Homo sapiens: one gene and its partners. The protein of the gene in region 1 purifies or fractionates together with the protein of each later gene. This does not show direct contact. Each region holds a gene or a part of one and is shown in the gene's direction. Other genes may lie near its edges.

Region 1 (3,750 bases):
AAAGGAATGTCTCCACATTGTTGTTTTTACCCCCAGTCTCTCTGTATGAAATTCTTGGCCGGGTGCGGTGGCTCACGCCTGTAATCCCAGCACTTTGGGAGGCCGAGGCAGGTGGATCACGAGGTCAGGAGTTCGAGACCAGCCTGGCCAATATGGTGAAACCCCGTCTCTACTAAAAATACAAAAATTAGCTGGGCGTGATGGCGCACGCCTGTAGTCCCAGCTGCTTGGGAGGCTGAGGCAGGAGAATCGCTTGAACCCGGGAGGCGGAGGTTGCAGTGAGCCAAGATCGTGGCACTGCACTCCAGCCTGGGCGACCGAGTGAGACTCTGTCTCAAACAAAAAAAAAAAAAAAGAAAGAAATTCTTAAAGACTGTCAAATGTCAGCATGCAGTTTGGCCCTAACCACAGCTCTTTTCTCTGCAAAGGAGAAAAAGGCAAAGCCCATAACATTGCTGGAAGAGCTGATGGACCATGGAAGCTGTTGTGGAGAAGCTTCACACAACTAAAGAAATAGCCCTTAATTTACAACCTGGGCTGACAGTTTGTTTCAGGCTGACTCAACCCACCCGAACAATCTGTCTCAGCACACCGAAGTGTCTCATGCCAAAAGATCCTAAGAGGGCTGGGCAACTTGGAAGGGATGAGACACAGGCCCAGATGGTGCACATCTGGCCAAAAATTAGAAAGAGAAAGAAATCAGCCTCTCAAATCCACAGACAGGTGTTCGGGGCTTCCCAGGAGACCTGCTTATGAAGGGCAACGGGGATGGCTATGGACTGGTGGTTAGTGAAGGAACAACAAAGGTTTCTGAGACTTGCGCAGGTCAGCGGGAACCAAACAGGTGGCAAGAGTGGGCTGCTGTCCACCTTCCCTTGACAATGGCGTCATTTCGAAGACCTTTAAATTATTTAGATTGTTGTAACCAAGACATCTTTAATAATGCACCAAACAGCAGGCACCAGGTTGAAATCAATTAGACTCCACCGATAAATTATAAGGGAGAAATTTACAGGAGAATGGCTCTGGGGTAGGGACTGCAGGTACACATGCCTGCCAGAGACAATTATATCAGGAACCAAATAGTTATTGCTTTGTCATTTAAGCAGCAGAAAAGATGGCCAGGTGCTCCTAAATTAGAGCAATAACAAATAACTAAAATGAGGAGGCCTGTTCTGGGCAGGAAGGCTTCTGGGTGGCCAAGAGAAAAGACAATGGAGGTAGGAACAAATGTCATTTGGGGGATATCTAGGATCCGGATGCACCCTGCACTGGGGGCACCTCGCGCTTCTTCCAGGAGTTTGGGGCCAGTGGGGTAACAGGTGGTATCACAGGGGTTTGTCTCCCAGAGGATGACAATCTCCTGGAGGTGACTTCAAAGTTTCCCTTTCTAGGCAGGACGCGGTGGCTCATGCCTGTAATCCCAGCACTTTGGGAGGCCGAGGATCTCCTGAGTTCAGGAGCCTCAGACCAGCCTGGCCAACATGGTGAAACCGTGTCTCTACCAAAAATACAAAAAAATTAACTGGGCGTGGTGGCGCGCGCCTGGAGTCCCAGCTACTCGGGAGGCTGAGGCAGGAGAATCGCTTGAACCCGGGAGGTGGAGGCTTCAGTGAGCCGGGATTGCGCCACTGCACACACACCAGGCTGGGCGACAGAGTATGACTCCGTCTCAAAAAAAAAAAAAAAAAGCAAAGTTTCCCTTTCTAGTACAGGAAAAGCCCTAGGGAGTCCTGGCTGGATCTCAGGCCCCCGAGGACGCAGCCACGCCGCGTGCCACGCGTCCATTGGGAGCACGAAGAGACACCCGCGTGGTCACCCCGCCAGGGCTGCCTAGGCGCCGCGTCCCGCCCTAGGCCGCGCGGGGGCGCAAAGCGCAGGCGCACTCCCGCCGGGCGCGGACGGCTCCGGGCCGCCAGGGGCCGCTGTGGCGCAGCCGGGCTGGCCCGCGCTGTCCCTGACGCGGATCACTGGCCCCTCTTGAGCACGGCCTTGCCGGTTTGGCGGGGTGAAAGGTTGCGAAGATGGCGACGGCCTTGAGCGAGGAGGAGCTGGACAATGAAGACTATTACTCGTTGCTGAACGTGCGCAGGGAGGTGAGGCCAGCGGCTGGACGCTCTGGGGGCTGAGGCCGAGCCCGGTCGTTCGGGAGGGCCGGGCTGGCGGTGGCCGCCCCACCCCCGCCACGGGAGGCTCGGGTCCGTCGGGGAGGCCGCGTGACCCCGGCGACGTGCACGCCAGCCGCCCGATGGAGGCGTCCCCACCGCCCAGACCCTCCCGCCGGGGGTTCCGGGGCCAGCCTCCGCCCCAGCTCCTGAAGGCCAGTGCGCCGCGTGCACTGTGTCCGGGTAGGGCCAGAGGCCCCCGCACGCTCAAGAGGAAACGGGGGCCCCGAGGAGGCCACCGTAGTGGGGTTAGCAGTCCTCCGAGACCCCGTCTCGCGCTCAGCCCACATACTCGTCCTGGCTGAGGGGCTGTGTCATCGCCCGCCGCCAGCAGGATGGCGAACTGAGTCTCACCCACCAAGGTCAAGGCCACTAGGGAACGTCCTTAGGGCTTTTTCCGGTTCCCGAGTCTTTCGTGGGGACGCTCTGCCTCTGAAGTGGGTCCAGCCTCAGAGGCATGCGTCTCATGCCCTCTTTCATTCCCCTGGACCCGATGTCCAGAAATTGCAGGCAGAGCCTCCGGGACACAGACCCTCGGCTCGGAGGCTGCAGATTAGGAAGAAGCCCTAGGCCAGAAAAGTGGTGCCCTAACAACAGCTTCAACATTCACACCAAGCACTTGTACCCTGTCTCCTCAACGAATAAAAGATAACATGAGAGAGTCTCACATAGCCTGGCAGTAGTAGGGCCCCACTACACTCCTTTGTTCTTGACTAGTCTGGAGTTGAGATAGGTGTGAAGGGCGAGAAGGCTTCCAGGGTCAGGTCATGAGGTGGATCAGTTTCTTTAAGCCGATGGGTCCAGACTTTTCAGCCCTGCCAGAGAATTCCTAATTCCATCTCTCAGGTTTTCCAGTGGTAATGAAAGCTAGCCAAGTTTGGCTATGCTAACCAAAGCGGGTTCAGTGTGTGTTGTCAGTAAATATTAGTCTATGTGATGTTAATAATACAAACTTATCTTGTGTGGGACCACTATGCTGAATGAACTTTGTACTGTTATCTCATTTAATTCTGAGGATAGCTCTTAAGGTAAGTATTATGATAGCCCTTGATTTACACTTGAGGAAACCAAGGCATAGAGAGATTAAGTAGTGTGTCTAAAGTCACACTACTAGAAAGTGCAAGAGCCTGAACTCAACCCAGGCAGTCTGACTCTGGAGCCCAGCTTGTGAGCTCCATGCTAGTCTGTCACCTTACCTTACCAGTCCTTGGACTACAAAGCTGCTAGTTCTGGTACTGTATCCTTGAGTGTCACGCGCGTCCGTGTGAAGAGACCACCAAACAGGCTTTGTGTGAGCAATAAACCTTTTTAATCACCTGGGTGCGTATGGGCTGAGTCCGAAAAGAGAGTCAGCAAAGGGTGGTGGGATTATCATTAGTTCTTATAGGTTTGGGATAGGCGGTGGAGTTAGGAGCAATTTTTTGTGGGCAGGGGGTGGATCTCACAAAGTACATTCTCAAGAGTGGGGAGAATATTACAAAGTACCTTCTTAAGGGCGGAATATCACAAAGTACATTATCACAAGGGCGGGGAGCGTGTATTGTCATAAGGCCAATTGACCAGTTAGGGTGGGGCAGGAGTAAAT
Region 2 (3,750 bases), on another chromosome or scaffold:
GTCTCCTGGGTTCAAACGTCTCCTGGATTCCCTTACCTCAGCCTCCCAAGTAGCTAGGATTACAGCCGCCCAGCACCACGCCTGGCTAATTTTTGTATTTGAGTAGAAACGGGGTTTTGCCACGTTGGCCAGACTGGGTATTTTACTTTTCAGTGATTTATTTTTATATTTTAAAAAATGGACACGATAATTGTACGTATTCATGGGGGTACATAGTGATGTTGTGGTGTATGTGATGTATAGTGATCAGATCAGGGTAATTAGCATGTCCATCATCACAAACGTTTATCCTTTTGAATATTTTCAGTCCATGGTTGGTTGAGTCCATGAATGTGGACCACATTCTACATAAAGAGGCTGACTGTGTATTCTTCCTCAACTCTGTTTTTTTTTTGAGAGAGACTCTTGCCCTGTCCCCCAGACTGGAGTGCAGTGGTGCGATCTTGGCTCACTGCGACCTCTGCCTCCCGGGTTCAAGTGATTCTCCTGCCTCAGCCTCCCTAGTAGCTGGGATTATAGGCACCTGCTTGGTAGCCCGGCTAATTTTTGTATTTTTAGTGGAGACCGGGTTTCACCATGTTGACCAGACTGGTCTTGAACTCCTGACCTCAAGTGATCTGTCCGTCTTGGCCTCCCAAAGTGCTGGAATTACAGGGATGAGCCACTGCACCTAGCTCCGTCAATTTTTTTGTTTTTTTTTTGTTCTTGAGATGGCATCTTGCTCCGTCACCCAGGCTGGAGTGCAGTGGCGCGATTTCCGCTCACTGCAACCTCTGCCTCCCGAGTTCAAGCGATTCTCCTGCCTAAGCCTCCTGAGTAGCTGGGACAACAGGCGCCCGCCACCACACCCGGCTAATTTTTTGTATTTTAGTAGAGGCAGAGTTTCACCATGTTGTCCAGGATGGTCTCGATCTTCCGACCTTGTGATCCGCCCGCCTCAGCCTCCCAAAGTGTTGGGATTACAGGCATGAGCCACCGCACCTGGCCGTCCCTCAACTCTTTTCCAGTGTACCTGGGTCCCCTAATACAGTAGCTAACACTTAACTACAGTTCCATACGTGGTAACACATTTAATCTTCACAACAGTCCCAGGAGGTAGTGATAATATTATTCGCATTTACCGGTGAGGAAACTGAGACACAGAGAGGTTAGTAATTTGCCCAAGGTTTCCAAGCTATGTTGGAGTCAGAGTTTTGATAAATAAAATCAACTTCATACACTAGTAATAATGGCAGCTAAGGTTTATTGAATGTTTACTATGTGCCAGGCACTGTACTGAGTACTTTATGTGCATTATCTCATGTAATCCTCACAACAGTCTTGTTAGGTGGATAGTATTATTTCTGTTTTACAAATGAGGTAACTTGCCGAGAGTCAAACAGCTTGTAAATGGTGGGCGGAGTCAGGATTCAAACTCAGGTACTGTATATGCCTGAATTTTTAATTAAGCACCCGCTCACAGTTAACTCCCAGCAGGAAGGAATCAGCTTCGAGTGTTTTTATTAATATTATTGAGACAGGGTCTCCATCTGTCATCCAGGCTGGAGTACAGTGGTGCGATCATGGCCTACTGCAGCCTCCACCTCCTGGGCTTAAGCAGTCCTCTCACTTCAGCCTCCCAAGTAACTGAAGCTACAGGTGCACGCCACTACACTTGGCTAATTTTTAAATTTTTATGTAGAGAGAGGGTCTTGCTATGTTTCCCAGGCTAGTCTTGAACTCCTGACCTCAAATGATCCTCCTGCCTTGACCTCCCAAAGTGTTGGGATTACAGGCATGAGCCATTGCTCCCCAGCGAGATATTCTTTCAGTTGTTTTATTTTGAACTAGTACGACTGAGGAAACAAAGACGCATCAACTTGAATCCCCATTGCTAGTTGGGTATGGTTAAGAGTGTCAGTTATAGAATTAGTTTAAAAAAAGAGGGTGGGGTCAAAGAAATTAAACATAGGCGTAATTCCTGGGTGAAAGATGTGCAATTGTGAATGTTGGATGTCATTGTAAATATGTTTTAAAGTCCCCTTTAAAAAGCAGTACCTCACTTCAGCCTGGGTGACAAAGTGAAACCCTGTCTCAAAAAATAAATAAATAAATAAAAAATAAAAGCAATACCTTGAATGGCTGTGACAAGTGACAGAATATCCTAATGTTAAGCATATGTATACTTACTGTGTGGGATAAAATTTCTATTGACAGCTTCAATTTTGGATTCAAAATTGTACTTTAGACAACTTAAAGTGTAGGTTCTATACTCTGGAAAACTGTTGAAGAACCTAAAAAGTGGTTCTGGTCAAAGATCTGTATAATGAGTTTGAATGAAAATTATTCCTGTGAAAGGTGAGAGAGGAATAAAAACAATACTTCTAAGTTAATATTTGATTATAATATTATGTATAACTAAATTAATACATGTAACTAAATTAAATATTCTAACTAGTATTAGGCTAATTCATCGGTATCCCCAAAAGTTATTAAAATTGGCACTCAAAAATTATTTGGATCTTCAGAATCATTTATGTTTGGCCATTTACTGTAGAACCCAGGTTTTTGGCCAGCTCACGCCTATAATTCCAACACTTTGGGAGGCTGAGGCAGGCAGATGGATCCCTTGAGTACAGGAGTTCGAGACCAGCCTGGGCAACATGGCAAAACCGTGCAAAAAATACAAAAAATTAGCTGGGCGTAGTGGCATGTGCCTGTAGTCCTAGTTACTCACAAGTCTGAGGTGGAGGATTGCTTGAGCCAAGGATGTTGAGACTGTAGTGAGCCTTGATGGCGGCACTGCACTCTAGCTTGGGTGACAGAGTTTAGAACCTCTCTAAAAACAAAACCAAAAACAAAAAACTAGGTCTTAACCACCAGGCTATACTACCTGCATACAGGATAGAAATCATTGGATTGAAACTAAGTTCTTTCATTATGATAGTCGGGAGGGTTTACGTAGTCTAGTTTTGTTCTTCTAGTAGTTAGGTTGAAAGTATTATATACTTTTCTTTTTATCTTGTGTGTTTGATAGCACCAAAGACTCTGCACAGAAGCAGAAGAACTCGCCTCTGTTGAGTGTAAGTAGCCAAACAATAACCAAGGAGAATAACAGAAATGTCCATTTGGAGCACTCAGAGCAGAATCCTGGTTCATCAGCAGGTGACACCTCAGCAGCGCACCAGGTGGTTTTAGGAGAAAACTTGATAGCCACAGCCCTTTGTCTTTCTGGCAGTGGGTCTCAGTCTGATTTGAAGGATGTGGCCAGCACAGCAGGAGAGGAGGGGGACACAAGCCTTCGGGAGAGCCTCCATCCAGTCACTCGGTCTCTTAAGGCAGGGTGCCATACTAAGCAGCTTGCCTCCAGGAATTGCTCTGAAGAGAAATCCCCACAAACCTCCATCCTAAAGGAAGGTAACAGGGACACAAGCTTGGATTTCCGACCTGTAGTGTCTCCAGCAAATGGGGTTGAAGGAGTCCGAGTGGATCAGGATGATGATCAAGATAGCTCTTCCCTGAAGCTTTCTCAGAACATTGCTGTACAGGTCAAGTGTCAAGTTTCTACTACTAAAATGTAATTGGGGGGTGGTGGGGTTCAGGGTGGGAGATATTTCTTCATATTTGGTGGAGAACTTGCTGGCTTGTTTTGTTTTTTGTTTTTTTTGCTAGCAACCATCATACTACTCTCATACAGTGCCATACAATGACTTCATTCTGATGTTCAGTAAATAAGAAAGCCAGTAGCCATTGTCTAATCTTATGGCAAGT
Region 3 (3,750 bases), on another chromosome or scaffold:
CTACGCCCGGCTAATTTTTTAGTTCTAGTAGAGACAGGGTTTCACCATGTTGGCCAGACTGGTCTCGAACTCCTGACCTCAGGTGATCCATCCCCCTCGGTCTCCCAAAGTACTGGGATTACAAGGCATGAGCCACTGCGCCCGACCGACAGCCTGTTCTTCTAACATGAAGTTAGCTTGTAATTCTTTCCTAAGTGAATTATCCAGCTATATCTGCATTTGCCTTTTGAGTGTTTTGTCTGGGTTGCCAAATATGCAGCTGATGCTGGCGTAATGGATGTCTTCTAGTTTTGTTCAAATACAAAATGTGCCTTAGATTTTATTTAGAAGGTATTTTTGAGCCCCCTTAGTAAACTGTAGCTTTCCTAACGCAAAAGTTCCCTTCTTTCAGTTTGATATTAGCCTATTTCAGCTACATGGTTTACGTCATAGAATTTGAACCAAAATGAAACTTGGAGTTTATTGAACTCAGTATTACCAACAGAAGAAAAACCTACAAGAATGATGCTTCATCATTGCCTTGGAAAACCTATGCTGCATTTTTACTTGTGTTTAAAAATAACCCAAATTGTGTTCTTTATTCAAGACCTTGCAAGCAAGACATTTCTGGAAATATTGCTTTAATATTGATATATTCCATTGTTTTTAAAGGTGGGATATGAGCCTCTTCCTCCAACAATAGGACGAAATATTTTTGGGCGGCAAGTGTGTCAGCTTCCTGGTCTCTTTAGTTATGGTAAGTGCCTTTGATTTATTTGGGTTTGCATGACGTTGAGGACTGTGATAGGCAGGAGTTGTTATTGAAAGAAAATATATAGAAAGCTTGTTTCTTTGAAATTGTAGTATATCCATTTCTCTTGACCAGAACTTGACAACATCTCTGACTTGTGTTCTTAGCTCAGCACATTGCCAGTATCGATGGGAGGCGCGGGTTGTTCACAGGCTTAACTCCAAGACTGTGTTCGGGAGTCCTTGGAACTGTGGTCCATGGTAAAGTTTTACAGGTAAGAGGAAAATTAAATCAATCTTCCCATAGATGTTGCTTACCTGTTATGCATAGTTTGTTCTAAATATCAAGAGCAATTTAAAAGATACATTTATAACCCTGTCCTTTCTTCCTCTTGAAAAACACTTTCTTTTTTTTTTTTTTTTTTTTTGAGATGGAGTCTCACTCTGTCGCCCAGGCTGGAGTGTAGTGGCGCGATCTGGGCTCACTGCAAACTCCGCCTGCCGGGTTCACGTCATTCTCCTGCCTCAGCCTGAGTAGCTAGGACTACAGGCTCCCGCCACTGCGCCCGGCTAATTTTTTGTATTTTTAGTAGAGACAGGGTTTCACCGTGTTCTCAATATCCTGACCTCGTGATCCGCCCGCCTCGGCCTCCCAAAGTGCTGGGATTACAAGCATGAGCCACCGCGCCCGGCGGGACTCAGTGAAATTGTTGCTGTTACTTCCATGAAATTTACATATGGAAAGGCAGTTGTCATCTAGCCAAAGAGGTTTGTGTATAGACTTAGAGAAAAAGAGAAAGTGCTGCTTGAGACTAAGTTACTTTATGTAACTGTAAAGTAAGACAAACTTGAGGTAACCAGGTACCCTGAATATGTTCCAAATGTAGTCCAGTGAAATATTACAGGGTTGGTACTACACTTAGCATCCAAAGCTGCTTGTACAGTCAAGAAGAAGGATCTATGCAGGGCTGAGAAAATTATTAACCTTTACAAGAAATAATTTTGTAAACTGAACAAGAATTAAAATGAAATTCAGGAAATGTAGAAGACAGGTTAGATAATTATATCGATGGAGTAAATAACAAAGTATAGAAACAAGTGAAAATTTAGAGACCTGAAGCTATTAGAATTAATTCTAGCCAAGGACCTGGAATTTGGCCAAAATACATTACTTTGCTTTATCTTCACATTTGTTCTCTTGCCCGTGATTTTTTTAAACACAATTCTTTTTACAAGAGAAAATGTTGTCTATTTTTGAAATCTGATATGGCTAGAAAATAATAAAACTGACATTAAAAAATAAGAAAACAATAAAACTGGTGGTTACACAAGAAGGAGCTCTCAATTGATAATTTTATTTTCACCTAGCTCACATTCTATTTCCAAAATACGCCACAAAAAATTCCTCTTGCAAGAATTTTTCTCTGGGCTCTGGCAGTATTCATGATCTCTTCTCTAGAAGAGAAAAAAAAAACCTCTTGCTTGTTTTAGAAACCATCAGATACAAAGGAGAAAGTGAGGCGATTTCAGCTCTTCAGTCTTAATATCAATTCTCTGTCCTTTTATGCAGGGAAGAAAAGAGTCTTGCCCTAATTTGGTATTGGTCATGCGTTTTCCATGAGAAAAGTGGGAACCCTGGGCTATGTTTTTACTGACTTATTTTCTGTTAAAACTGAAAGTTCTTGGCCAGGCGCAGTGGCTCATGCCTGTAATCCCAGCACTTTGGGAGGCTGAGGCGGGTGGATCAGCCGAGGTCAGCAGTTTGAGACCAGCCTGGCCAACATGGTGAAACACTGTCTCTACTAAAAATACAGATGTTAGCCAGGCGTGGTGGTGGGCGCATGTAATCCCAGCTACTCAGGAGGCTGAGGCAGGAGAATCGCTTGAATCTGGGAGGTAGAGGTTGTAGTGAGCTGAGATTGAACCATTGCACTCCAGCAGTGAGCCGAGATTGCACCATTGCACTCCAGCTGGGTGACAAGAGTGAAACTCCATCTAAAAAAAAAAAAAAACAGAGTTCTTGAATTTTCTTTTTTGTTGTTGTTCTTATTTTGTAATTATTTCTTTAAATTTATTATTATTTTTTTAGAGACAAAGTCTCACTATGTTGCCCAGTCTGGTCTTGAATTCCTGGGCTCAAGCAGTCCTCCCTCTTCGGCCTTCCAAAGTGTTGGGATTACAGGCGTGAGTCACTGCGCATGTTCCCTTTTCGTTTTTTGGGTTTTTTTGTTGTTTTTTTTTGAGACAGAGTTTCACTCTTGTTGCCCAGGCTGGAGTGCAATGGCATGGTCTCGGCTCACTGCAGCTTCCACCTACCGGGTTCAAGCAATTCTCCTGCCCCAGCTTCCCACGTAGCTGGGATTACAGGCACCTACCACCACGCCCAGCTAATTTTTGTATTTTTAGTAGAGAGGGGGTTTCGCCATGTCAGCCAGGCTGTTCTCAAACTCCTGACGTCAGGTGATCCGCCTGCCTCAGCCACGCAAAGTGCTGGGATTACAGGCGTGAGGCACCATGCCCGGCCCCTTTTCTTTTTTTCTGAGATGGAGTCTTGCTCTGTTGCCCAGGCTGGAGTGCAGTGATGTGATCTCAGCTCACTGCAGTCTTTACCCCCCGGGTTCAAGCAATTCTCCTGTCTCAGCTTCCCAAGTAGCTGGGATTACAGGCGCCCGCCACCAAGCCCAGCTAATTTTTGTACTTTTAGTAGAGATGGAGTTTCACCACGTAGGCCAGGCTGGTCTCAAATTCCTAACCTCAGGTGATCCACCTGCCTTGGCCTCCCAAAGTGCTGAGATTATAGGCGTGAGCTACCGCACCCAGCCTTCCCTTTTCTTTTTTTTTTTCTTGAGACGGACTCTTGCTCTGTCACCTGGGCTGCAGTGCAGTGGCGTGATCTTGGCTCACTGCAACCTCTGCCTCCTGGGTTCAAGTGATTCTCCTGCCCCAGCCTCCCTAAGAGCTGGGATTAAAAGCGTGCGCCCCAATGCTCCGCTAATTTTTGTATTTTTAGTAGAGATGGGG

Evidence for each region.
Region 2: the proteins of DNAJC11 (region 1) and RNF214 purify together in Homo sapiens (affinity purification with mass spectrometry; 2 studies listed by BioGRID and IntAct, with this or other methods). This does not show direct contact.
Region 3: the proteins of DNAJC11 (region 1) and MTCH2 purify together in Homo sapiens (affinity purification with mass spectrometry; 2 studies listed by BioGRID and IntAct, with this or other methods). This does not show direct contact.

Annotation. Positions count from the first base shown.
Region 1 is NC_000001.11:6,700,075-6,703,824, reverse strand, and holds the start of DNAJC11 (dnaJ homolog subfamily C member 11), read left to right. Parts: upstream 1-2,008; 5' UTR 2,009-2,024; coding exon 2,025-2,096; intron 2,097-3,750.
Region 2 is NC_000011.10:117,235,585-117,239,334, forward strand, and holds part of RNF214 (RING finger protein 214), read left to right. Parts: intron 1-3,016; coding exon 3,017-3,527; intron 3,528-3,750.
Region 3 is NC_000011.10:47,635,953-47,639,702, reverse strand, and holds part of MTCH2 (mitochondrial carrier homolog 2), read left to right. Parts: intron 1-651; coding exon 652-736; intron 737-897; coding exon 898-1,004; intron 1,005-3,750. UniProt on the Homo sapiens protein: Protein insertase that mediates insertion of transmembrane proteins into the mitochondrial outer membrane. Catalyzes insertion of proteins with alpha-helical transmembrane regions, such as signal-anchored, tail-anchored and multi-pass membrane proteins.